Regions from separate parts of the Homo sapiens genome. Here all the other regions are linked to region 3. Evidence: fine-mapped expression QTL. A gene starts in region 3. Each other region holds a variant in brackets. All regions are shown on one strand. Distances are from middle to middle.

Region 1 (5,133 bases), 870 kb before region 3:
CATTAGACATAAAACAACAAAAAAAAGCACATATAAAGCTGTTCTATTGCTCAGATAATATTTCAAAGAACAGGAAAGAGAACATATTTAAAAGTATATATCTGCATTGACTGCCAATCTCTCTTTCGATAGTAGAGATGACTATGTTTGATATTAAGCTTCTGTAAATCAGGCTTTCCTACTTTAACTTTCTAGTATCAACTGGTATATACAATCATTACTCTTTCTTTCCTTTTTTGTTTTTTTTCTCCTATCCTCTACATGGATAGACTAGAGGCTTAATAGTGTGATGATAATGGCTCTGTAACTCTGTAACTCTGGGTATGGCGTGTTCAGAACACCCACAGTAAACAATCCCAAATCCAAACATGTGTCTCAGAAAATGTGTCTCAAAGGCCTAGTGCTGTGCTGTCCAATATGGTAGGTGGTAACTACAAGTAGGTATTTACATTAAAATTAAATAAATTAAAAATTCCATTCCTTAGCCACATTTCAAGTGTTCAGTAGCCACATATGGCTTAATAGCTACTATACTAGCACAAATATGGTTCCATTGGACAGTGGCTAGCCTAGAGTAACATTTTCTAACTTACCACCTTGACCAGGGTTTAAATCAAGACCAGCCAATGGATTGTGCCTCACATGTACACCTACTTAATTTTAATTGGCATCCTGGAGTAGAAAAAAAGTACAGTGTTTGGAATAGACATCTCTTGCGGACATAGAATTGCGGAGTGGTGCCCACATACACCAAACATGGCTCATAAGAACTTGCATTAGCAGCAGTATAAAACTACAAAATACTAAAAATGCAACAAGAGTGCCACATCTCATAAATTACACGTGTCTTTCCACGTGCCATTTCAAAATAAGCCATGAGCGAAGTGTTTTTCTTCAGGCATACAGAGTTAAATAAAGTCCTGAATACGATCCGTAATCACAATCTGGGTCTAATCTGAGACAATTCATCTTCTTATTCATTAAACCAGAAAACTTGTATGAATTGGTAATACAAGTAACACCGATAATTTTTTTAAATGTCCATTTTACCTACATGTGAACCTGATACTCTGAAAATCACTGTTGATTCTTGTCAAGTAAACAACTATGCCACTGATAAAGCTCCATTCTTGAGTCCATATTATTCCCTGATAGAACCCAATAATCTAATCAGAGGTTTTTTTACCCCCACTTAGGAATTGTTTTTTGGATACTGTGACTCCAATAGGGCTTTCATTAACTAAAAAGAACTGTATACAACATATCAAATGCAGCATCTGGTCTAGTCTGAATTTCTAAATGACAAGCACAGCATGCATTTGGAATTACATAGAGAACGAGAAATCAGACCTCTATCATTAGCAATCTTTTTCCCCAAACACTGCTTCCACTTCATGCTTCAACACCTTTACCTTCCACAGACCTCTTGGTAATGTCACGACTAGCTTGTCAAATCAAATTCAGCAGCACACAAGCATCTGTATTAATACTTTTGCATTTTCATTCACTAGGAAAAAACAAACTCTACTTAGTAGGCAGATTAGCCATTATCTACTGTAACTCTAAACCATCTGAGTTACATTACTAAAATGAATTGGCATTGAAAACAGAGCGACAGAAATGTTTACCGATAGAAAAATATGTAGGGAATGGGAGTTTCTTTTGCGCTTACTTGCCAGTGACTTCCTAAAGCTGTAATGAGGTCAAAATAAGCTGGTTTATTTCATCTGTGACCACTGGGTGAGATCTCATTTTATAATGGCCTTAATAATTTGCCACTTATGATTACGATAATAACAATATTTTTTAAAATCACTGGAAACTTTAATTAGGTATTTCCAAATCGCTAGGGGTTATTAACCAAGGGTCAATTTTGCTCCCCCAACCCCCACCCAGAAATATTTGGCAATGTCTACTGATATTTTTGGTTCTCATAATTGGAGGTGAGAGTGCTACTGGCATCTAGTGGGTACAGAACAGGGATTCTGCTAAATATACTTCAATGCACTGGAAAACTTCCTGCAACAAAGAATTATCCCACCCAAAATGTCAACAACGCCAAGGTGAAAAAACCATGCCCTAAAGCTACATATGATCACTATCATTTAAATGATTATTCCAGGACTTCTATGGACATGAGCTACTGAAAAAAAAAAATCATTTTGTCTTTCACAGATGTCAAGCTTAACCAAGTCCATGTGACCATTTAGAGAGTTAGGAGGTACATCTACTATAAAAATAGCATTTTTCAACAGAGGCTATTTTGTTATTTGTTTCATCCTTATTCATCCTGTCTCTCTAAACAACAGCAAAATTTTTAACCCATCATCAACCTTTAAATACTGTTGGGTCAAGTTCTCACTGTCAAAAAAGACATATTAATTGCAAAAAAGCAAAAACATGACCATCTTTACAGTGCTAAATCACTTCTGGAAAATGTTTATGTCAAAAATCAGCTTAAATTTTTGGAGATAGGACAGGCGCAGGTGGCCCATGCCTGTAATCCCAGCACTTTGGGAGGCCGAGGTGGGTGGATCACGAGGTCAGGAGATCAAGACCATCTTGGCCATCATGGTGAAACCCCGTCGCTACTAAAATACAAAAAATTAGACGAGTGTGGTGCTGCGTGCCTATAATCCCAGCTACTTGGGAGGCTGAGGCAGGGGAATCACTTGAACCCGGGAGGCAAAGGTTGTGGTGAGCTGAGATCACACCACTGCACTCCAGCCTGGTGACAGACCAAGACTCCGTCTTAAAAAAAAAAAAAAAAATTGGAGATAATTTTTAATAGAGACTATTACTAATC[T/C]AATAATAACTTCCATAATATCTTAAGTTTCACAACAGAGATGATGATATAAAGTAGAATTAAGTGGCAGCCTAATTATTAATGATGTTCTTTGCCTTTGAGATAATCCAGTTATACACTTTAAAGGTTTGGTATCTTTAGCCCCATGCGAGGAGAGAGTCGTATGTTTTTCTTTCTCTCACACACACTCCAGGAAAGGAAAAGCAAGCACAGTAGTTAACCCCTGATAGTTTATTAGTCATTCTTGCTTTGTCGCTTTATTACCACGAAACTGGTCAGTCATGGACATAAACAAAACGTGCAAGGATAAGGCAGGCTTTCACTCACATAAAAACTGCCAAGGGCCAACCCCATTGTGAATCACTACAGAAAATCATTACAAAATCTTAAAACAACAACAACAACAACAAAAACCCAGCACTTTGAATCATAGTATCTCTTCAACAGATACACTACAAAACTTTATCAGAAACACTATGTGAGAGATGAACAGAGCTAGGAGGTATTTTCACATTAGTAAAAAAAAAAAAAAAAAAATCTCAGAAATCATTTATATAAAAACCTATTGTGAGAAGTCTAAATTTACGTTCAATGCCTTCCCTTTCTTTCGCTCTATACAGTTTTAAAATATGTTCATTTTGTTCTAACTGCACAGTAATAGGCATGGCCTTCTAAGCAGAAAAAATATATTATGGCAAGGAAAAATGAAGAGATACGTTGCTAACACAACAGACTTTTGTTAAACAATTAAGAGGAAAAAAATGCATACAATATAGCATTTGCTATATAACCATAACCTCTCCCATTCCTGGTGTCCCACTCTGAATTCTACTTGATTCAACAACTTAAGATGCAATGGAAATAATAATGTCTATTCCAGCAGATTAAAAAATACAAGGCAGCAGTAAATGTTATGACCACCAGCTAATGGGCTATGGTGGAGAAGCATCCACTGTGGATTAAGCTCTCAAGTACTCAATAACTTTTAAAAATGCCTTAAATCACCCACAAAATGCAGTATACATGGCTTTGTGTATACAACTGTTAAGTGTACAAATATACATCAGGTGCAGGAAATCAAAAGCAGCCTTTGTGAAAACTTAGTTTTATAGTACTTATTACTACAAACTAGACATAAAGGTGCTGAATAAAATAATTAAGAAAAAGGAAATAGCAACTTTGAACAATCTTATAAATCATTTTATATAAGTTAGTTATCCTTAGAGTATGTATACTATAATTCTGAGTTAAATATTTATATAATACAATTTTTGTAACTGAAACAGGATCTCACTTTGTCATCCAGTCTAGAGTGCAGTTGCACGATCATGGCCTACTGCAGCCTTGATCTCCCAGGCTCAAAGGATCCTCCTGCCTCATCTACCTGAGTAGCTGGGAATAAAGGCATGCACCGCCATACCCAGTGAATTTTTTTTTCTGGTAGAGATGGTGTCTTACTACATTGCCTAGACTGGTCTTGAACTCCTGAACTCAATGGATCCTCCTGCCTCAGCCTCCCCAAATGCTGGAATGACATATGTGAGCCACTGTGCCTGGTCCATATAAGATTTTAGAGTATTACTCTAAGAGATTAACCCTACCCTGGGGAATCGATGTCAAAAGTTGGGAATATCTTTCCTAGGTGAAATAATAGAAATAACGAACTCTTTAGAGCTGACTATGTAGCAGGTGCTTCTGAGTGCCATACCCAGGGTAACTGATCCATGGGTTACATTAGAGGAAATTGAAGCATAAGGCAAGTAAGTAACTTGGCCAGAGCTGCAGAGCAACCATGTGGCAGAACCAAGATTTCAAGATTTGAGCCCCGGCAGTGTGGTTCCATAGACGCTACTCACTGGTCTCTTCTGCCTCTGGAAGACTCTCTCCTTCCCTGCCTTCTTGTCACCCCTCCTCCCACCCACTGACTACCACTGTACAGCGAGGGTCTTAAGCCAGAGATCCTATGAGCCGCAACCACCATCTGTGAGCTGCACATTTTTTGAGGAATTACCTTTCCGGCAGCACATTTGAGGGATTCAAGGACTTAGAACAACATGAAACAATTCAACAATAATGACAAGGCAATGACTATCGAAGTGCAGCTTCACCTCACAATATCTATAAAAACATCCATGGTTATTGCACCATCCACTTGTTCCTCTTCCTGTACTCTTGTCATTGTTTCAATAGAAACCGCTGACTACCCTGACTGCTCTCATATATACCCAGAGGACAAGGTTTGAGCATCTTCTGGTAAACAGCAATCTTTCTTCATGCTGGCATGACCTCACACTCCACTTCTTGCCTCTTCTCTAAACAATTTCTTC
Region 2 (5,133 bases), 570 kb before region 3:
AAAATATTAACATGAAAAGGTGTTTGGGAGAAGTTGATTCCAACTCTCATGGATGACTTTGAGGGGTTCAAGACTTCAGTGGAGGAAGGAGCTGAAGATGTGGAAGAAATAGCGACAACTAGAATCAGAAGTAAAGCTTGAAGATGTGACTGAATTACTGTAATTTTACAATAAAACTTGAATGAGTGAGGAGTTGCTTCTTACGGGTAAGCAAAGAAAAGGATTTCTTGAGGTAAAATCTACTCCTGAAGAAGATGTTATGAACATCGTTGAAATGACAACAAAAGCTTTAGAATATTACATAAACTTAGTTGATAAAGAAGGGTTGGAGAGGATTCACTCATTTTGAAAGGAGTTTTATTGTGGGTAAAATGCTGGCAAACAGTGCTGTATGCAACAGAGAAGTCATTCGTGAAAGCAAGAAGCCACTGATGTTGAAAACTTTACTGTTTTCTTACTTTAACAAATTGCCACAGCCACTTCTGCCCTCAACAACCACCAGTCTGATCAGTCGGCAGCCATAAATATCAAGGCAAGACCCTCCACCAGCAGAAAGATTATGACTTACTGAAGGCTCAAATGATCACCAGTATTTTTAGCAAAAAAAATTTTTAAATTAAGATAACATATTTTTTTATAATGCTATTGCATACTAGACTACTATAGACTGTAAACACAACTTTTATATTCACTGGGAAACAAAAAAGTTTGTGTGCCTTGTTTTATTGCAATATTCACTTTATTGTGATGGTCTGGAAGTGAACATGCAGTATCTCTGAGATATAGATATGCCTGCATTTTAAGTCTCAGTGTGACATTATTGTTCTACTATGGTTATTTTACTGTGTTTTACTTACACTTCAAGAAATTCACTAGAGGGTTGGTTTGACATATAACACATTTTTTCCCATTTAAGTAATGGCAAACTGTCTCAAGGAAATCATTTTTGGGTAATACATCTGATCATCAGGAATCAATTAGTAACATCAAACAAGGGGTGTCTATATTTTTTTCTCAGCATGTTCCTTATCTTTTCTTTGTTTGCTTGTTTGTTTGTTTTCTATTTTACATGTCTCATTTAATCCTGGAAAAATGCTATAAAGTAGCTAGCTGATTCTATCTTACAGATGAGGGCACTGAGATTCAGAGAGGTCAGTAGCTGGCTTTATTATCTTCTTCACTGTGGCTGCAATAAAAAATAACCACAAACTTTGTGGCTCTCACAGCTCTGGAAGCCAGAAGCCCAAAATTAAGATGTTTAAGAGCAAAGATCCCTCCAGAGGCTCTAGGAGGGATTCCATTCCTTGCCACTTTCAGCTTCTGGTGGTTGGTGGGACTCTTGTAATAGCATTTAGGTCTCCCAAAATAATCCAGGATGATTTCCTCATCTCAAGATCCTCAATTTAATCATATCTGCAAGGACCATTTTTTTTGCAAACAAGGTCACATTCACAAGCTCTAGAAATTTGATGTGGATACGTTTGCAGAGCCAATATTCAACTTGGCACACTCACCGAAGGCCACATAGCAGAATACGGTGTCAAGTCCAGATATAGGAGTTCCAGACTCCAGAGTTCATGTTCTTTCCACTCCATGTGCGGTTTTCCATCACATTGTGTGACCTGTCGTCTCCATCCCTCCTCACACCTCAGATTCCCTTAGTCTTCCCAACCTCAGAGTGAGGTTAATACTCTGTTCTCTCCGTGCCAGGGTCTCTTCCAAGGAGAGTATTCAAGAGCTGTGCCACCCCTTTACAAATTCCATTGCGCATCCGTGACTTCCTTTCCAATACCCAGACAGTTTCCTGAGTCTAGTTCACAGACTAGATCACCAAAGCAACCTTCCTGGGAGTAAATATTACATCTTTCCCATTCATATTAGTTTCTCAAAAGTGCTCAAGAGCCTGAAGAATGACAGAAGAGAAATGCTAAAGATTGAAGGAGTTCAGAACACAATACTCCAAAATATGTTGCTCTAGTATATTGACTATTTTGAGCTTAAAGACACTTGGAAAAACAGCAGATACAAAAAATATACTCTGAGCTTTCTTCTTTTCCTTAGAAACAGGAGATAACTTGTCCTCCCTA[C/T]GCCAGAGGGAAAGTAGCGTTCTTATCATCAAAGACGAGAAGTTGATGCTGAGAGAAATCTGAACAAACACACCTTATTAAAGTAACCCTTATCTTCCTAGTTACTTCTCTACCCAATTAACCTCCCTAGCCCAAGCCCGTTGGCTTTGTCACATACTCACAATTTTCTATTCCTTTCCCAATTCAGTACATAGGTGTTCAACTTTCAACTCTGTCTTTGGGTTTCATTTCCTTAAGAGGGCTCTTGTGCTCACATAAAAATTGAATGAATTAAATTTGTATGCTTTTCTCCCGCTGATCTGCCTTATGTCAATTCAATCCTCAGGCCCAGCTAAAAAACCCTAAGAGAGAAAATTTGGCCTCCCCTACAATGTCATCCTCTTTCTTTTTTCTGGACCTTCTATCTGCTGGTACTTAAGATACTAAAATGGACGGGAGAAAGAAAGCAAACCATGTTATGTCTTCTGCATTGGCCTGGTACACTCCGTTTGAAGGTTACTCGAAGCCAGCTTGCTTTTTGTCAAGAGATTGCTTGATCTGGAGCCATATAGAAAATGGTGACATCTCCACCCCGTGACATATGGGCCAGTAAGGGCTTGCAAAGTTCCATTCTGCACACTTCTCTTCATTCTAAGAACGAGTATTCATTCCATTTAAACACATATTACCAGGAATTCAATCCAACCTCTCTTTTTACAGTCTACCTAGAATTACTATTATACTATTTACATACAATATGGAAACCTCACACATGTATGAATCTATTTACAAACTCCCTCTAAATTCAAGTTGTCATTGAAATTACATCTACCTGTATTATAAATCCCATAAAAATGATGCTATAGTTTTTACTTAAACAAACATACATATTCTTAAAACATTAGGAGGAAAAAATTGATTTTTATATTTATCTTACTATTTATGATTTCTTTATTTTTACATAAGGATCTGAGTTTTCATCTATTTTTTCTTGTCATCCCAAAGAACAAAGCATTTTTTACAGTGTAAGTTGGTCTGCTGGCAATAAATATTCTGTTTTTGTTTTTCTGAATGCAACTTTATTTTGACTCCGTTCCTGAAGTATGAGTATCTTTGGATATGGACTTCGGGATTGGATAGTCATATCTCCTTACAGCACATTGAAGATATTGTTTCATTGTCTTCTTGCTTTCATAGTTTTTGAAGGTAGGTTGGCAGTATTTAGCAGTGCAGTTTCATGTATATAGTGTGTTGTTTTTCTCCGGCTATTTTCAAGATAGTGTCTTGGGTTTTCAGCAGTTTGATTACAATGTGCCTCAGCATCTTGAACGTGTACATTTATCTCTCACCAATTTTGGGAAGTGTGTGGGGCCACTGTTTCTTCAAATATTAGGTTGGCACAAAAGTAATTGTGGGTTTTGTAATGAAAAGTAATTGCAAAACCACGATTACTTTTGCACCAACCTAATATTTTTATGACCCATTCTCTATCACCTTTCCTTCTGGGGAACCAATTACTCATATGTTAAAAGAATTATCCCATAGGAACCTGAGGCTCTGGTTGCTTTTTTTTTAATCCTTTTTAAAAATACAATCTCTGTTCTTCATAGAGAAAATCTATATTGATATTATCAAATTCACTGACTGCTTTGGTCTGCCTGTGTATGTATATTCCAAAGGTCAGCCAGAGATTTGAGCAGAATTTACACCAAAAATTTGTAATGCTCCTTTTCTGGCCCTCTTTTTAATGACATTCCTCCCTTACTTTCCAGTAGCTGGGGTTGCTCCAAACTCTGTCCCCTGGTTCATAAGGCCAGAAAGACTGAGCTTCCTACAGGAGTTTCAGCCACTCTGTGTGGCCCTACCTGTGGCTTGACCTCAGGATAATAGTCATAAGAAATTTAACCTATACTACTTCCAGGTGTCTTCAACCCCCTTCGAGAATCTTGCTGCCTTTGTTCATTCTTCAGATCCCTCAGAGAGTTTTGTTGTTGCTGCTGTTTGTGTTTTGTGAGGGTTTACAGACTACATGGGAAGCAGAAATTGTTCTTTGGGATTTAACTTTTACAAAAATCACAAGCACTCATCTCATTTGTGGCAGTGAAAGTAATATTTACAATGTTAACGTTAAATAACATACCTTGCTACAGGTTTCCAGTAAATATCTTGTATTATGCTGCGTAAGCTCCTCCTATTTCTAGCTCATTAAATAAATATTATTTGCTTGTTGGTCTTATTTAACAGAAAAAAAAGGAGTCTCTATTTATTAATTCATTAGTTTTATTTTCCACAGATTGATTTTGTTACTCTCCTTTAATAATGAAAGTTCTCAGGGCTATTAATTTTCTGCTAAATACAGCTTTAGCCATTTAAAATATTGATACATAGAGTTCTTACTCTCCTAACAGTTTATTATATAGTTTCCTTTCCTGTTTGAATCTGGAGTTTTTAGAAAAAAATTTGGTTTTTGTTATCATTATTTCTCTTTTCCAAGCTACTGATTTTTGCATTTAAACTTTTGCTATTAATGTCTAGCTCTATTTCAGTGTAGGCAGAACATGGAGGCTGTTAACACTTTATATTTCATAATTTAATATGGTTTCTTTGAGATATAATATATGATCAATTTTTTTCTAAATGCTTCATGGCTCCTTAAAAAAGTGTATTGCTTATTTCTAGAGAACAAAATTTAATAAATATTTATTAAATCATCTTTGTTAGATTATTAAAATATTCTATCAATTCTGTGTTTATTTGACCCATGAAAGATCAATAAAAGTGTATTAAAGTGTCATACAACAATTCTACTTCCATCAATTTTTCCTTATATTTCTAACAGCCTTTGTTTCATGTATTTTGAGGCTGTTACCAAGTCAATAAAAATTCAGAACTGCCTTATCTTCATTGTGAAGTCTATCTTAAAGAAAATATAACCTTCTTGATTGCATTTAATATTTTTATAGCCTTTGATTCTATTTCATCTAAATATTGCCAAGATTACTTTTTTTTTTAATTTCGCTTCTGCCTAATAAATCTTGTCCATTCTATTGTTCTTTCTTTTTTAATC
Region 3 (5,000 bases):
ATCTTTCAGAAGAGACCAGAGTTACCTGCCTTATTATCTGTGAATACATAATTGAAAGGGCCAATATGTCTTCCAAAATGAAAGTCACAACTTGATAGATTTCTGAGAGTTCATATTAGAGGGTCAGATTTTAACATGTGAATGCAAACATAGTGTCAGAATTTGTTCTCAAGTGTCTGAAAGAACAAAAGAGAAAAGAGTAATGGGAGCCAAAACCAGACTAACTTCCAAAATAGAAACAGAGCATGTTGAAGTTGCATAAACACACAAATAAAGATGGGGACACAAAAACATTTCCTAAAGCATTCTATCAAAGGCTGCAGGAAAAAGGCCAAGACAAGGATACCAAATAGAAAAGCATAAGCCTAAAAAGGTTATCCACACTACTGTGAGGACTCCAGAAACCTGCCTTCTTGCAGAAACGGGATACTTTTGACATGAGGGCATGAGATGAAGATTGCAGACTACTTCGTAACACACTCTCCTCATTTATAAAATAAGAGTTAGATTAGATTATTTATAAGGTCCTTCCAGTCTGAATGCATTAAGTCCTTATCATCTATGTGGTCCTTGCACCTTAAGAGAGATGACCATATAAAGAAGCTCAAAAAACATTTGTTGAATTCATGAAGTATTACAACCTTACCAATAATAAATAAGATAATTTATAACAATTGGTCCTGGTCTGTGGCCTTGAAAGAGCAAATTAGAGGAGAAACCATTATCTAAAGAGCTACACATCTGGTGTTCCTGCTAGCTGACTGCTGGTGGAATGAAAATAACCCTGGACTTGAAAATAAGATGCTTGGTTCTAGTCTAATCTCTGACACAAACCAACTGTGTGACCTTGGGCAAACTGCTTTACCACCTGGGCCAGTTTCCTAATCTCTAAAATAAAGGTATTCTAAAACTATATACATATATATATGGAATCTTTATTATAGGCCAAGAAGTGTTCCAAGATCTTTGCATTAGAATTAAATGATCTCAAAGGTTTTTGCAGCTCAAATGTTTAGTATCTAAGTACAGAGGCAGCATGGTATAATTAAAAGATTCCAAATTCTGTAGCCAGAAAGGTTGGACTCCTCCTCAGCTCTGTAAGGTAAGGTCTTTCTCTAAGCAGAGACTGTTAAGCAGAAGGGCTTACAGTCTCAGTCCTTTTATTCACCAGTGTTTTAACTTGAACAAGTTACTTAACTTTCCTAGCCTTAGTTTTCTAATCTGTAAAGTTGATATAAAAATGGTTCTCACTCTCATATAGCTTTTAAGAGGATTAAATTATAACACATATATTTTATTGAATATATATTATATTGCTAGCTGTGTAATCATGGGCTATCTTCTCAAGTTTTTTCTCATATACAAATGGGAAATGTAGTATTAAAAAGAGATCATGTGAACAGGTTCTAAATGGTCAAGTGTTAGTGGTTTTGGAAGCATGTACGTTAATACTTGGAACACCGTATACAACAATCCCATATCTAACACTTAGAACAGCATATGCAATCAATAACAACACACACACACACACACACACACACACACACACACACACACACACACACACACACAAACCCTAGACTTCTTTCTTTACTAAATATTTCTAGTCCAGGTTGCAGCAGGTGGACACAGGCCGGCAGCCATGAACGCAGGTCCACATGGGAGTTGTAGTTCCGAGTCAAGCGGCTGCTCTACAGAACGGCTAGAAGCGAGACTTCGTCTCCCAGGAGACATCTCGCCGTGCAAAATGGCACGCCACGAGGTGGAGTACCTGCCCGACGAGAAACAAGAGGCGGGACTGCAACTCCCAGAAGCCTCCGCGGCCAAGGCCTCAGGCCGCAGGCTGAAGCCAAGGAGGGAGAGTTCAGGTAGATCCGGCTTAACATCAGGTGCGAGTAGGGACCACCCTTGGTAGTCTGGGCCCGGCCCAGGTCAGAACCTTACTAAAACAACCACTGTGAGTATTTTCTATTGGTCCCAGCACATTTCTGAGAGACCAGAATAATAATAGCAGTAAATCTGCAAGTGGTAAACTTTCACAAGCATAACCTCAATTTAGATTTCGGCTTCAGGCAACATCCTTTGGCCACTTGACCTGGGAGCATTGAGCTCCTTGTTTCCCAGATAAGCGCTGTGAGTGGCTGTTCCAAGGTAACACAGCGAGGGCAGAATGTGAGCCTACAGAGAAATCTGCAGATGCATCTCAAGTTCCACTAACCTGCCTCCTTACCCCCCACCACCACCAACTTGGATATACCTTTAAAATTCCCCCCTTTGACGCTAAAAATAAAAACAACAACCATAAAATAAGTGTAAGAAAGTCCGACCAAGTACCGATGAGTTCTCCCACAACAATAAATTCGATGCCTCTTTGCCTGTTTTTGAAGTAGTAATGTAAAATTATCTCCCAAAATGCTGCCTTCTCTATACTCCGGTTTGCTCCTGTCCTGGGCACGTGTTCAGCAACCCCTTAGGGGAATCCAGAGCTGCGTGTTTAACACAGACCTGTTGGGACGGATTTTCGCTACTTGTCTATGAAACTGACGAACCATCCCAAAACGGCGGGTGCCGACTACACCCCCAGAGCCAAGAGCTGTGGCGTCCCCGGACCCGCTGGCGTGGCCCCGTGCCTCAGTTTCCCCAATGTATAAACACGGTGGAGGAGGAACGGGTTAGGGCTAGGGTCGGTGCTTGGGAATTGGGGGGCCCGAGTCCCCACCCTGAGACCCTCGTGGGGCGGAAGAGTACTCGGGACAGAAGCCCACCGCCCCGTGAGCGGCGCCGGCCCCACTGGGCTCCGGGGTGATGACCTGACGCGCGTGGAAACCCAGACCCGCGCCCCAGAAACAGTATTCCACTTGGGCTTGCCTCCCCGCCCCTACCTTCCAGGATGTTGACAGCTGGGAATGAAAGGCAGAGGGAGGGAGCGCGGGGCCGGAGCGCCGCCTGGGAGTGTGCCCACTGGGTGGCCGCCTGAGGGACCCGGGAACAGAGGGCAAAAAGTCCTGTGACCGGACAGAGCAGAGCGGGGACTGCAATTCCCAGAAGACCCCACGGTAGGGGCGGGACCCAAGATGGCCGCTTGTCTGGGGACAGGAGCGGAGGCCAATACGCGCAGAGCATGCGCCTACGCCGGGCCAATTGAAAGCCATAGTGACAGTAACCCTGATTCAGGGGCGGGAAACACTGACCACAGAAGACAAGTTGAGGTGAGAATCCCCTTACAAGGGGGTTTGGGGCATAAATCGCACAATCTTTGGCTTTTTCTAACTAGAAAAAGAAACATGATTCTTTTCACGTGTAACGAAAGGCTGTACCGCACTTTTGCTTTTTTCTTTCCTCCCAAAACGCGTTTAACTATCCCTTCACGACTTCCCACTGGCTGGATTTCTTTTCGTTTCATTTCCCCACTCTGGATCTTTCTGGATTCCTTAAGCCTTCTTTTCTTTATGTGTCTCTCAGAAACACAGACTTGCAGTCCCTGGCTTGATCCATCAAATAATGTGGTCATTTACGACTACGCTCAGCCCTCCCTGGCATCCTAACAAAATTGCACCACATGCGCCCCTTCTCTTTTCCTTTCTGTCTTTTCTGTGCTGTTTTTCTCCTTAGCATTTGTCGTTACGAAGCATTGTATAAAATTTACGTATTTATCTTTTTTACCATCTTACTTTCTCACTAGAATGCAAGATCCCTGCAGATGTGGATTTTTGTTTTGGTCACTGTAGTCTTTCTAGCACCTAGAAAAGTGCCCAGCACATAGTAAATACACCGTATTTTCAATAATTGAACGAAATCTAGAGTGACCTTTCTCCCCTAGTCTCCCTTTCTCTGGTGCAGATCAACCCGTTTCTGACCACCATGGTTCCTTGTGCTTGTTCCCCTGTTTAATCCAAAATCATTATTGATGTATTCTGTGCCAAATGCCATGTGGGTGCTGGAGAAATCATTGATTCAGACCCAATTCCTAACCTCAAAATGCTCTGTCTAGTGACGTATGAAAAGTAAAATTAATTTTACAATAAATGCAATTACAAATTGCAGAACACCTACGTAATTTTCACAAGGTCATGCAGCTCCTAAGCAAGGACTAGATTCCTGGCTGCAGACTCTTGCCATTACATCGGGAAAAACAAAGAGCAGTTTTCTCTCAGACAAACACTAAGATAGGTCCCCATTTTCCTTAGCACCATTTCCTTTCTCTGTCTCTCACTTTTTTATTTGGCCTGATTCATTACATGCAGGCAATTACATCAAGTCTTAGATCTCTCATTATTTCTAATATTTGAATCCCATGGAGAGTAGCAAGGTGTCCTACAAAGTGTCCTGGTGTGAAAATCTGATGTCCTTGGAAGCTTGACTCTCAGAGAATGTCACATTGGATTATAGTTCATCACACAGACACCATGGCCACATAAAATATTATCAAATTGTGAATAACAAAGTGAAATTGAAAAAAAAAATATAGTTAAAACAGCAGGAATGTGAGCAATATATGTACAGACTGATTTTGTGCATAGAGATTAAAACACCTGTTCAGGCTTCCTAGCCTAATCTTCTGTCAATTTGGGGTCATTTCCTGTAATACAATTCTTTGTTGCTTTTATGAGCACAGACTTAGCTCAGCAGTCCCAGCTATTCTCAAGCTGATCGACATGAGAGATTTCAACACATGTGTCAGCAGCCAGACTAAACGTGGAAGAAAATCAGAAGCATTTGAAACTGTAAAGCTCAATAACTTTCCTCCTCCTGAGAAAGCATCAGCCTATAATCATTACATCTTCTACTTAGCAGTCAAAAGGCAAATGTCATGAACATACTCAGGGTCTAAACAGTGGTGTCTAATGATTATTGCACTGTTGTCAGATAGCCTAATATGAGCACATAGGTATTACTTCAGCTGTGGATAATGCTGACTGCTGGGCTCAAGGTCACCCACGACCTTGAGCAACAGATACATTCACAAAGAGCATGAAGACATAGAACTTGCATTGGATTCA
Region 4 (5,133 bases), 580 kb after region 3:
TTTTTTTTTTTTTTTTTTTTTTGGAGATGGAGTTTCGCTCTTGTTGCCCATGCTGGAGTGCAATGCCGTGATCTCGGTTCACTGCAACCTCCACCTCTCAGGTTCAAGTGATTCTCCTGCCTCAGCCTCCCGAGTAGCTGGGATTACAGGCACGCGCCACCACACCTGGCTAATTTTGCGTTTTTAGTAGAGATGGGGATTCTCCATGTTGGTCAGGCTGGTCTCGAACTCCCGACCTCAGGTGATCCACCTGCCTCGGCCTTCCAAAGTGCTGGGATCACAGGCATGGGCCACTGCGCCCTGCCGATGGATCTCTTTATCGGGAGGTATAAATGCATCAAAATTTGTGGAGCTGTAGTGAAATTTGTGCTTTGTTTTTACTTGGTGGCTTCCTTTCTTTTTTCAAAGACCTAATGAGAATGTTTAAATAACAGACATCTGGGTTCAGCCTTTGAAGCCTTAGCTTGTACTGTCTGATATTCTCAAGTTTTTGAGGAATATCGGGTCAGTGATGGACATTTAGCTGCAAAATATATTCCTTTAGTGATCCATCTATTTAATCTCACTGATAAAAAGATACTGATACTGATGAGTATCTTTCCTATTTTCATGGAGGCATTATTCAGGCATAACCCAGGATACTCCTAGCTGCTGTTGCAGAATTTTTCACTGAAATATAGAAATATGTGTGTAAACATCTGTCTCACAACTTTTGTGAAAGAGCATAATACCCATTTATGGTGAAGAGAAGGAATAAGCAGTTAAGAAAGGAAGCAGTTGAGTGAATAATTTTGTCATTTGACTTGCATAAAATCATTGGGATAATTTTTACTTATAAATATACCACACACAGGAAGGACCTTTTGTTCCATTTTAAAAATTGCAGGTGACACCTGTTTTTTTGTTTTTGTTTTTGTTTTTTTTAACCTCATGTTACTTCTCTTGCTTGATGTTCAACCCAGCTTAAAGTTAAAGCAGACTCAAGCCACCATTCATTCATTCTGTTGAGGACAGCATCCATCTGGTATCTTCTTACTTTGTTAATTCAGTTATTCTATCTACAATTGTTTCTCACATTGATGACTTAGGAATTTCAGGAATGGATGAGTTAGGAAAATGCCAATGACCATGGAAATAGAGAAAAAGGTATACCAAATTTTGGGTGCTTTTTGAGTTTTCTGTCTTATGGGTAAATGATATTTTTGTGCCTTTTTCTCCATTGCAAAAAGGAAATAGTTTTTCATAAGAATTGCTGGTTCAAACTGTATATAGATAAACACACACATAGGATAGATATTGATGGGTGGTAAAAGTTTTCTAATTGGTTCAGATGAGAAGATTTAAAAATTACTTAAAAGAGAATAAACAACATCTTGTCTATAACTATTCTAGGTGGTTTGTTTTTCTAAAAATAATGTAATATTTTAAAAATGTTTCTAGATGATTTCATTTATACATGGATTTATACATTTGTATCTTATAAATATCCCAGAAAGAGTCAATCAAAAAATTATATCTGCCAAAATAAGTGTAATCATGTTGTTCAGCCTAACAAGAAGGGGGTGCTTTGCATGCACAATTCCATGCAAATGAATTCACATTTCCATTTAGCTGTAATGGGCACATTCTCCCCACAGCTGTGCTTTTCGTTGTGACATGGAGATAGAAGCTCCACTTTCAAAATTATTGGATTTGGAAATGGAGTTAGAATATTGAATTTGGTGCCTAAAATAATAACTATCTCTTTTTAAAAACATTATTATATGCTCAAAACCCCTTCCCTGGACTAAGTCATTTAATTCTCATAACCCTATGAGATAGGTACTGTGATCATCTTCAGAACAGAGTTTTGGAGCATAGAGAGTGGGTAAGCATCTGGGGCAGGGTCATACAACTGGGAAGAAACTGACCTGGACTTGAACCCAGGCTTTCTGGCTTTGGAACTAGCTCTGTTAAGTGCTGTGTGTACAGCCTTCAGGGTATCAGGTCCTTATCTGACATTATCTCACCCTCTTCCCCCAGTGGATCTTGTAGGGTAGGTATCATTATCTTCATTTTATAGCTGAGAAAACTGAGATGCAGAATATGCTGCTCTGATCTTTGGTTTTTACTTACTTTTTTAAAAAAAATATTTATTTCTAGTTTGTATTTCAGTAGGTTTTTGGGGAACAGGGTATTTGGTTACATGAGTAAGTTCTTTAGTGGTGATTCATCAGATTTTGCTGCATCCATCACTTGAGCAGTATACACTGAACCCAATATGTAGCTTTTTATCCCTCGTCCTCTTCCCACCCTTTCCCCGCTGAGTCCCCAAAGTCCAGCGTTATCATTCCTATGTCTTTGCATTCTCGTAGCTTGGCTCCCACTTATGAGTGAAAACATATGATGTTTGGTTTTCCATTCCTGAGTTATATCACTTAGAATAATAGTATCCCATTCCATCCAGGTTGCTGTGAATGCCATTAGTTCATCCCTTTTTATGTCTGAGTAGTATTCCA[T/TTGTGTGTGTG]TGTGTGTGTGTGTGTGTGTGTGTGTGTGTACACAGTTTCTTTATCCACGTGTTGATTTATGAGCATTACCTCGTTCTCCTTCTTTTTATTTGAAGGGTGGAGTAGAGTTAGCCTGAGGTGCAGGTAGAGTCTCCTGACTGAAAGTTATAAATTGAATTCTACATATGACCCTAAATATATACTATAGGACTTTCACTATAATGCCCCCAATTTTGCAGGGCAATTTGCTACATCTGTCAAAATCCAGTGTGCATGTGCTTGATATAGCAAATCTGCTTAAAAACGTGCAGAAGAAATCTCTAGGGCTTTTACTGGCTTAATCTAGTTTATTTCAGAATGTCAGATCTTGCGCTTGGGGTGGTGTTTGTGACAATTCCAGACCTAAGCGAGAGTCCCTGCGAGGATGTAGTGAGCGTGTGTGCCAATGCCCTGGTGAATCCTTTATCCCCAGGCACTTCACTTGCTTTCCTCATTCCGGCAAAGTGTTTTCCTTTCTTTTCTTTTTCTTTTTTTGGAGACAAGTCTCACTCTGTCGCCCAGGCTGGAGTGCAGTGGTGTGATCTCGGCTCGCTGCAACCTCCGCCACCTGGGTTCAAGCAATTCTCGTGCCTCAGCCTCCTGAGTAGCTGGAACTACAGGTACCCGCCACCACGCCTGGCTACTTTTTTTGTATTTTTAGTAGAGACGGGGTTTCAGCATGTTGGCCAGGCTGGTTTCGAACTCCTGAGCTAAGGCAGTGTGCCCGCCTCGGCCTCCCAAAGCGCTAGGATTACAGGCGTGAGCCACCGCGCCCAGCCGTGTTGAAGTGTTTTCTATGGAAGCTCATCTTTGAAAGGAGAGCTCTGTGTAAATGTTAGGTATTCTCATCCACAAAGTTATGGGTCTTCCTTATTTCTCATCTACTTTATTGGCTTCAATTAGTCACAGCACAGTAACTTAAAATGATTAATAACATGGAGGTCAGCTTAGGATTTCAGAAGATGCTTTTCTTGGGAAGTAAACATAACGGATTGCTTATATATTACTCTTTTAGGTTATTTGTCAAAGAACACATTTGCCTTGGAAGGATGTTTGTTACAGCATCTTTTCTTCTTTCTTTGACATGTTGCCTCTCCTGAGTCATTTCTTCACAAAAAGTCTCTTGTGGTTGCAACTGTTAGATGGAGCTTTGATAAAAATTGGTCTCAGAATCATCTGGAATATTTATATTGTCAAGTTTTTTCATATAAATTATTTTATGGCCTTAAGAGTGTTTTTTTCTCAAAGATACTACCCTGGCAGGGGGTCAGTTTACAGTTCAAAACTTTGTTTGCTGTTGAGCTTAATTGATTTAAAAATGTGCTTCTAGCCAGGTACAGTGGCATGTACCTGTAGTCCTAGCTGCTCAGGAGGCTGAGGTGGGAGGATCGCTTGAGCCCAGGAGTTCAAGACTAGCCTAGTGAGATCCTTTTTCTTAAAAACATAAGGCTTGCCACGGTGGCTCATGCCTGTAATCCCAACACTTTGGGAGGCCGAGGCAGGTGGATCAGGAGGTCAGGAGATCGAGACCATCCTGGCCAACATGGTGAAACACTGTCTCTACTAAAAATACAAAAATTAGCTGGGCATGGTGGCGTGTGCCTGTAGTCCCAACTACTCAGGAAGCTGAGGCAGGAGAATTGCTTTAACCCAGGAGGTGGAGTTTGCAGTGAGCTGAGATCGTGCCACTGCACTCCAGCCTGGGCTGGAGTGAGACTCCATCTCAAAAAGAAAAAAACATGAACATTTTGGTTCTGATGTGAGCTGCCAATTTTTTCTCATCCTGGAAGTTTCCTAAGGCAAACATATTGGGAATCCAGCTCTCAGAAATTAGACAATTGAATTATATTTCATCTAGATTGCCCACCCAAGCTAGTGAAAGCTTGGGTTTTGATTTTGGTTGTGTTTAATAATTACAATCCTTTTGGCTGTGTTTTCTATCTGAAATTCAGCTAGATATAGAAATAAAGTCCAAATATACCTAAGATTCAGCATCATAAATGTCAGGTTCATGGAAGGATTATTTATACTTGTATTGAGAATTATGCTGTCCAGTTTGGTAGTTTCCAGGTGTCTCATTGTGGCAGAGGCAGGCTGCCTTCCTTTGGTCGTTACTGTGCCTCAATTACCTCAATATTCTCTTGAGAGAAAAGGGCTTAGGTTATTCCATTAGCCTCTGGTCAGCCCTTCCTGACTCTACTGTTACTTTCTCCTGCTCCAGCCTCCTTTGTAAATGTGGAAGTCAATTTCCTATTCAGTGGGATCATGTCATTCCTACTCCCCCCTTCCCCAGGCTGGAGTGCAGTGGTGCGATCTCAGCTCACTGCAACCTCTGCCTCCTGGATTCAAGCGATTCTCCTGCCTCAGCCTCCTGAGTAGCTGGGATTACAGGCACACGCCACCACACCTGGCTAATTTTTGTATTCCTAGTAGAGATGGGATTTCACCATGTTGGCCAGGCTGGGCTCGAACTCTTGACCTTGTGATCCAGCCACCTCAGCCTCCCAAAGTGCTGGGATTATAGGCATGAACCACCACGCCCAGCCCGTTCCTGCTATTTAAGTCCTTAATGGCCTGGCCTTGTTGGTAGTCTGAAGTGTCACATCAGTGGTTCTT
Region 5 (5,133 bases), 110 kb before region 3:
ACACGGTGAAACCCCATCTCTACTAAAAGTACAAAAATTTAGCCAGGCGTGGTGGCAGGCACCTGTAATCCCAGCTACTCAGGAGGCTGAGGCAGGAGAATTGCTTTGAACTCGGGAGGCGGAGGTTGCAGTGAGCTGAGATCGCGCCACTGCACTCCAGCCTGGGCGACAGAGTGAGACTCTGTCTCACACACACACATACACACACACACACACACACACACACACACAAAGAGGTCAAGGGAGGTAGAGCTCAAGAAAGAGAAAGTGCTTAGTGGGGCCCAATATTACCAAGGGTAGGGGGTTGGCTCATAAGCCTCAGAAAGTGGTGGGCACTGGGATTCAGGCAGTGTCTATTTCTAAAGCAAGAGATCCCAAACTCCCAAAGAAAAGCTGAAAACAGTGATGAAAACAGCAGGTGTGCACAGAAGGAAACTAAAAAACATGCAAGAAAATAATTATTCATTCAATAAGTATTTGTTGAGCTTCTACTATGGTCCAAGCATTCTATATTGGAAGTATAGCAGTAAACAGGATATAATGGTCTGTGGGCCCACAGGATTTAAGAGCAGATAGGATCAAGATCAAAGAAAAAGAGTCTGACTTCAAAAAGCTATGAGACATCTCTTCAAAGGAAGGAGAAATGATCTGGGGCTAAAGATTATATGGGCAGAGTCCTAGAAGTATCAAGAAGACAGAAAATTTTAGGGTTGTCATGAGTTGGGTTGCCCTGAAGGCAAAACCTGAGACAAGGACTTAGGTGCAGGAGTTTATGTGAGAGATGACTCCAGGAAGCAGAGATGAGGAAATAGGGTGTAAAAAGGGAAGAGCAAAAGCCAACTAAGGGTACATTATCAAGTTTACCACTTGCCAAACCAGCAAGAGGCTGGTTTGGCCAGAACCTCCAGAGAAGTACACAGCTTGCCTCCAGAACTGTTCACCTGAATCGCAAAGGCCGGAGCACTTATTCACATGTTCAAATGCCCAGTGGCTGAGAGTAGCCTCTGAGGGCATTTATTCCCACAGACGTCCAGGCTCCTCTTCAGCCCAGGCCATGCAGACTCCCAGCATAAGAGATGCCCTTGGGGAAGAAAGCAGAAAAGCAGAAAAGTAGGGGCTAGAGGTGGGAAGCTGACTTGGACAAAACTGGTCACCACAGTTGTTGCTGAAATCAGAGATAATTTCACAGAGGGACTGTGAAAATGGCCACAGGGGCATCTGCCACAAAGGTAGTGTTGGTGAGAACTAGGTGGAAATGGCTAATCATTCAGCCCAGGCTAGTTAAGGAGAAAAAAAAAGAATGCTAAGAGAAAGTGGCTTGGGAAGTTTTCTAAGGTCTAAGCTTTCTTTCAATGATTTTTGGCCTCTGCATAAAAATATGAACTTAGGGACTTACTAATAGCTCAAAGTTAAGATCATAGAGAAGGCGTTGTACTCCTCTAGGTCAAGGGCATATTAACCACTGATATTTATTGAGCACTTACTATGTGCCAGGCACTTTATAGTCATCATCAAATAAATCATCCCTGCAACTGTATATACTCATTAGTATTGTTGTTCCCATTTTATAAAGGAAGGAACTGAGGCTTAGAGAGTTTTTAAAGCTTTTAAGATCTATGAGGTAACAACCTATTTCATTTTAAGTGTATGTCAATAACCCACACTTGCATCCTTGTGTTCGAACACACACACACACACATACACACACACACACATACACACAGTAAAATCAGATATGAGGAATTTCTGGTTTTACTAGAGAATTTAGTTTATTTATCTTCCCTGTCTATTTCTTCATTACATGGATAATGAAGCACTTCTAGACTCTTTAATGAATACATTTATTTAAATTTTAAAAAATTTATACCAATTGATCAATGTGTTTTCATCAAATACGTGGACTAGAAATACAGAAAATAAAGATGTTTAGATATAGAAAACTGAGCAAAAACCAGCTACAAAATACCACCAAAAGCACAGAGCTAGTTGAAGTCAAAAAAAGCATCATAAAGGGAAAAACTAAAAGCATCTAAATACAGAACAAAAGGCAAATCTGATTGAAAACTTGTCTGCATCTTTAATTTGGAGGCTCATGATCATGCTGGAGGTAGGAGGCAAAATTTAATTTAAGGAGAATTTTGGCCAACCATCGCTATTTTCTTTAACACAAGAACAAGGAGGGAGAGGGAATGAGGTAGACAACATCCACGGAGGACCAGGTGAAGGAAAAGCAGAGAGTGATCATATCCCATATCCCCAGACACTTGGATTAGCCTCAGGGAGGCTGGTTAGGCAATGCCACCACCACCACCGTCACCACGCCCCCACCCCCCTCACCCGACCCACCCGCCACTCCCAGAATAAAGCTGGTTTGTAATTAGTTTAGGCTGTAGAGGCTTGTATCATTAAAATAATGACCACTGGGCATTTGCCACAACCAAGATAATGTTTCATAATCAAATTAACTTGGCTCAAAAACTTGATTTGGAACCTGTTTATGGTTAGTCATCAAACAGCTTTCGGGGTGCTTGAAGCATAAGATATGCAAAAAACTAGGTAAGTAGTGCATGAACACAGAATCAGAGGAAAATGTGGCTATGTTTTAGTCACAGAGTACTTACAATGGGGGTTGGAGGTAGGAGGACAGTGACTATACAAGAAAAGGATTTGAAATTGACCCTCAAAGAACTGAATATCTTTTTAAATAAAATGACAATATTAAAACCACATGCTTAAAATACGTA[C/T]GGCTAAGTGCTTCAGCAGAGACTGGGATACCAGATCCTGAGTTCCTCAAAGGCAGGAGTGTCCAAGTCATTCACTTTTGCTTCACCGGAGCCTAACACATTGCCTGGAGCAGTGTTGGTACTCAGGAAAACCTTCTGTCGAATGAAGGACTATCATGCTGTTATAATAATTAGGAGAGGACAACATAGAAACATGGAAAACCTTTTTAATCTACTGGAAAGTGAAAATGATATGTCAATGGATTGCAACCATGTGCAAAAACAGGTGTGTTTGAGGACAACTAGAAGATAAGGTGGCAAAAATGAAAACACTGGTGTCAGGTGTTAGGATTCTGCATGTATTGTTGTTGTTTCTAAAACTGCATTTAATGTTGTCAGAATATAATCTTTGTAATTTCAGAATCTAGAGATGCTTCCATGTTGGAGGGAGGGAAGGAACTGGATACTCAATGAACTGATAGCTTACAGGCAAAGGTTCAAACTCCATTGCTTAGCACTGCAGACTCTTTGTGGCACAGTCCCCAAGAACTCCAGTTTTATATCATATCCCTGCTCCTTCCTTCTTCCCCATCACACTGAATAGTTTGCCTTTTCTAAAACGTATCATAGGTTTCACTCTTTTTTTTTTTTTTTTTTTTTTTGGTACACACTCTTCTCACTATTTGTAATGCCCTTGTTTCCGTCCCTTCTTCATATGGCTAAATCCTACCCATTCTTCAAAACACAACTCAAATATTTCCCCTCTGAGAAGCTGACCTGATTCCCCACACCCTATCCCAGTCTCAATTTTTGGCCACGTCTCTAAGTTTCTATAGCAACTTATGCGCTTACCTCTTTCAGAGCCCTGTCTCACTATGCTGCAATCACTGGTGTACTTGCCTTTCTCCTCTACTAGCCTGGATGCTACCTACAGATAATGTAAAGATACCTGGGGCTACAAAGGCCAGTGGATGACCCACTGTCTTTTTTACCAAACTGTGACAGTGTGGTCACTTAGTCAAGACTCTTTTGGTTGCAAGTAACAGACATCCATTGAAACTGCTTTGAGCACAAAAGGGAAATTTATTTATAAGGACATAGAGATACTTCTCAGAGCCCAAGGTTAGAAAGTGCAGACACTGAGGTCTGGATCCTGGAGCTAGAAAGCCTACAGAATCAAGGCAGCTACTCTCTTAGTCAATCAGTCTTACTCTCTCCCCATACCCACCTCTCTCCCTGCAGCCTCACACAGTCTTTTAATCTGCATATCTCCAGAGGCCTGTTGTATTCCTCTCTCTTTCTTTCTCCCTCTCTCTTGCTCCGAAAGACAGTTATACAGTGGCTACAAGTATGAGCTCATACTACCTGTGTTCATGCCTGGCTCTGCCATTAACCAACTATATGACCTTGGATAAATTACTTAACCGCTCTGTGACTCAGTTTCCTCTTCTACAAAATGGGAATAAGAAGAGGTCCCACCTCATAGGAGTATTACAAGGATTATTGAATTAATCTAAGACATGGCTTCCCACTGCTCCCAAGTTTACACATCTACCTAGTCTATCTACAAATATGTCTTAGTCCAAGACCACACTTCTGAGAAAGACAACCTGGCTGGTCCAGCTTGAGTCAGCTGTGGATCTTTGATCTACTGAGCCACAGCCTGGGAGCCAAGTTAAAAACCTGATCACCAGGGCCCATCCTTGAAGATAAAGTGACAGTTCTTAGAGAAAGGGGCCATGGGCTGAGCAGACACCAGAAACAAAAACCTGCTACAGCCACTAACTAACCATGCAGCCATGCTTGTGGGCCTGCCTAGGATTACAGCTGGGCCTTTTCACCTCATGGCCCTGAGCAAGGCTCGTATTTAAAACACACAGCTGCCTGTCAGACTGCAATGACACCTAAGGGAGCTCCACACACTGGCACTTAATAAAGGCTTAATGGTGATGATGGTGGCGCTGACAAAAATGACGGTGGCACAACAGGCCATGCTATTGCTTCCCAGCAGTTCTCTGCTGGGCCCCGTGGCTTGAAGTTGAAATCAGCACATCCTTCTAACTCGGCTAATGTGGCTTGGCTCTGGGGCCAACCCTCATCAGATCCCATCCAACTGCTAGTTAGGTAGATTTATACCCCACTAAATCCATTGTCACACAAGGGCTTCCTCCTCACTGCCAGAGTGTAAAGAACATAGACACAGCATCCAATAACCAAAGGAGGAAAGGCCTCCAAAGAAAATTAACCATTTGACTTCAAAATGTTATGCTGCTGCTCTAGAATTTCCAACCAAATGAAATCAGCTGAAGGTCCTGCATCTTTAAATAATAAAAAAATAAAGAAGAACCACAGCTGTGGGCCCTTACTAGCCCATAAATAAAGCCCCGTATGCAACTCTATATCAAACTTT

Alleles and levels. Alleles are on the strand shown, and positions count from the first base shown. SD is a standard deviation of normalised expression in the study named. Not every link is listed here.
In carriers of allele TTGTGTGTGTG in region 4, the expression in monocytes after LPS of the gene that starts at base 3,034 in region 3 tends to be higher than with T alone (large effect, 1.1 SD a copy in Fairfax 2014).

What was found.
Region 1: its variant is fine-mapped to the expression of FHIT in whole blood (TOPMed, PIP above 0.99).
Region 2: its variant is fine-mapped to the expression of FHIT in whole blood (TOPMed, PIP above 0.99).
Region 4: its variant is fine-mapped to the expression of FHIT in monocytes after LPS (Fairfax 2014, PIP 0.95).
Region 5: its variant is fine-mapped to the expression of FHIT in skeletal muscle (GTEx, PIP 0.93).

Annotation. Positions count from the first base shown.
Region 1 is chr3:60,381,513-60,386,645 of GRCh38, forward strand. All of the region lies in intron 5 of FHIT (fragile histidine triad diadenosine triphosphatase), which reads right to left. Among named protein-coding and RNA genes, the nearest start is that of MIR548BB, 230 kb to the right of the region's middle. The variant T/C (reference allele first, on the strand shown) is at 2,807.
Region 2 is chr3:60,682,903-60,688,035 of GRCh38, forward strand. The region is part of intron 4 of FHIT (fragile histidine triad diadenosine triphosphatase); the gene reads right to left. Among named protein-coding and RNA genes, the nearest start is that of MIR548BB, 68 kb to the left of the region's middle. The variant C/T (reference allele first, on the strand shown) is at 2,088.
Region 3 is chr3:61,248,419-61,253,418 of GRCh38, forward strand. It overlaps FHIT (fragile histidine triad diadenosine triphosphatase), which reads right to left and starts at 3,034. Exons shown (of 10, transcript NM_002012.4): 1 at 2,883-3,034. LOC124909387 (a long non-coding RNA gene) reads left to right here and starts at 3,174. Exons shown (of 2, transcript XR_007095939.1): 1 at 3,174-3,209. RefSeq lists enhancers at 1,623-1,902, 2,183-2,312, 2,453-2,582, 2,713-2,772, 2,837-3,131.
Region 4 is chr3:61,830,569-61,835,701 of GRCh38, forward strand. All of the region lies in intron 2 of PTPRG (protein tyrosine phosphatase receptor type G), which reads left to right. Among named protein-coding and RNA genes, the nearest start is that of PTPRG, 270 kb to the left of the region's middle. RefSeq lists an enhancer at 1-57. The variant T/TTGTGTGTGTG (reference allele first, on the strand shown) is at 2,499.
Region 5 is chr3:61,133,901-61,139,033 of GRCh38, forward strand. All of the region lies in intron 2 of FHIT (fragile histidine triad diadenosine triphosphatase), which reads right to left. Among named protein-coding and RNA genes, the nearest start is that of FHIT, 110 kb to the right of the region's middle. The variant C/T (reference allele first, on the strand shown) is at 2,745.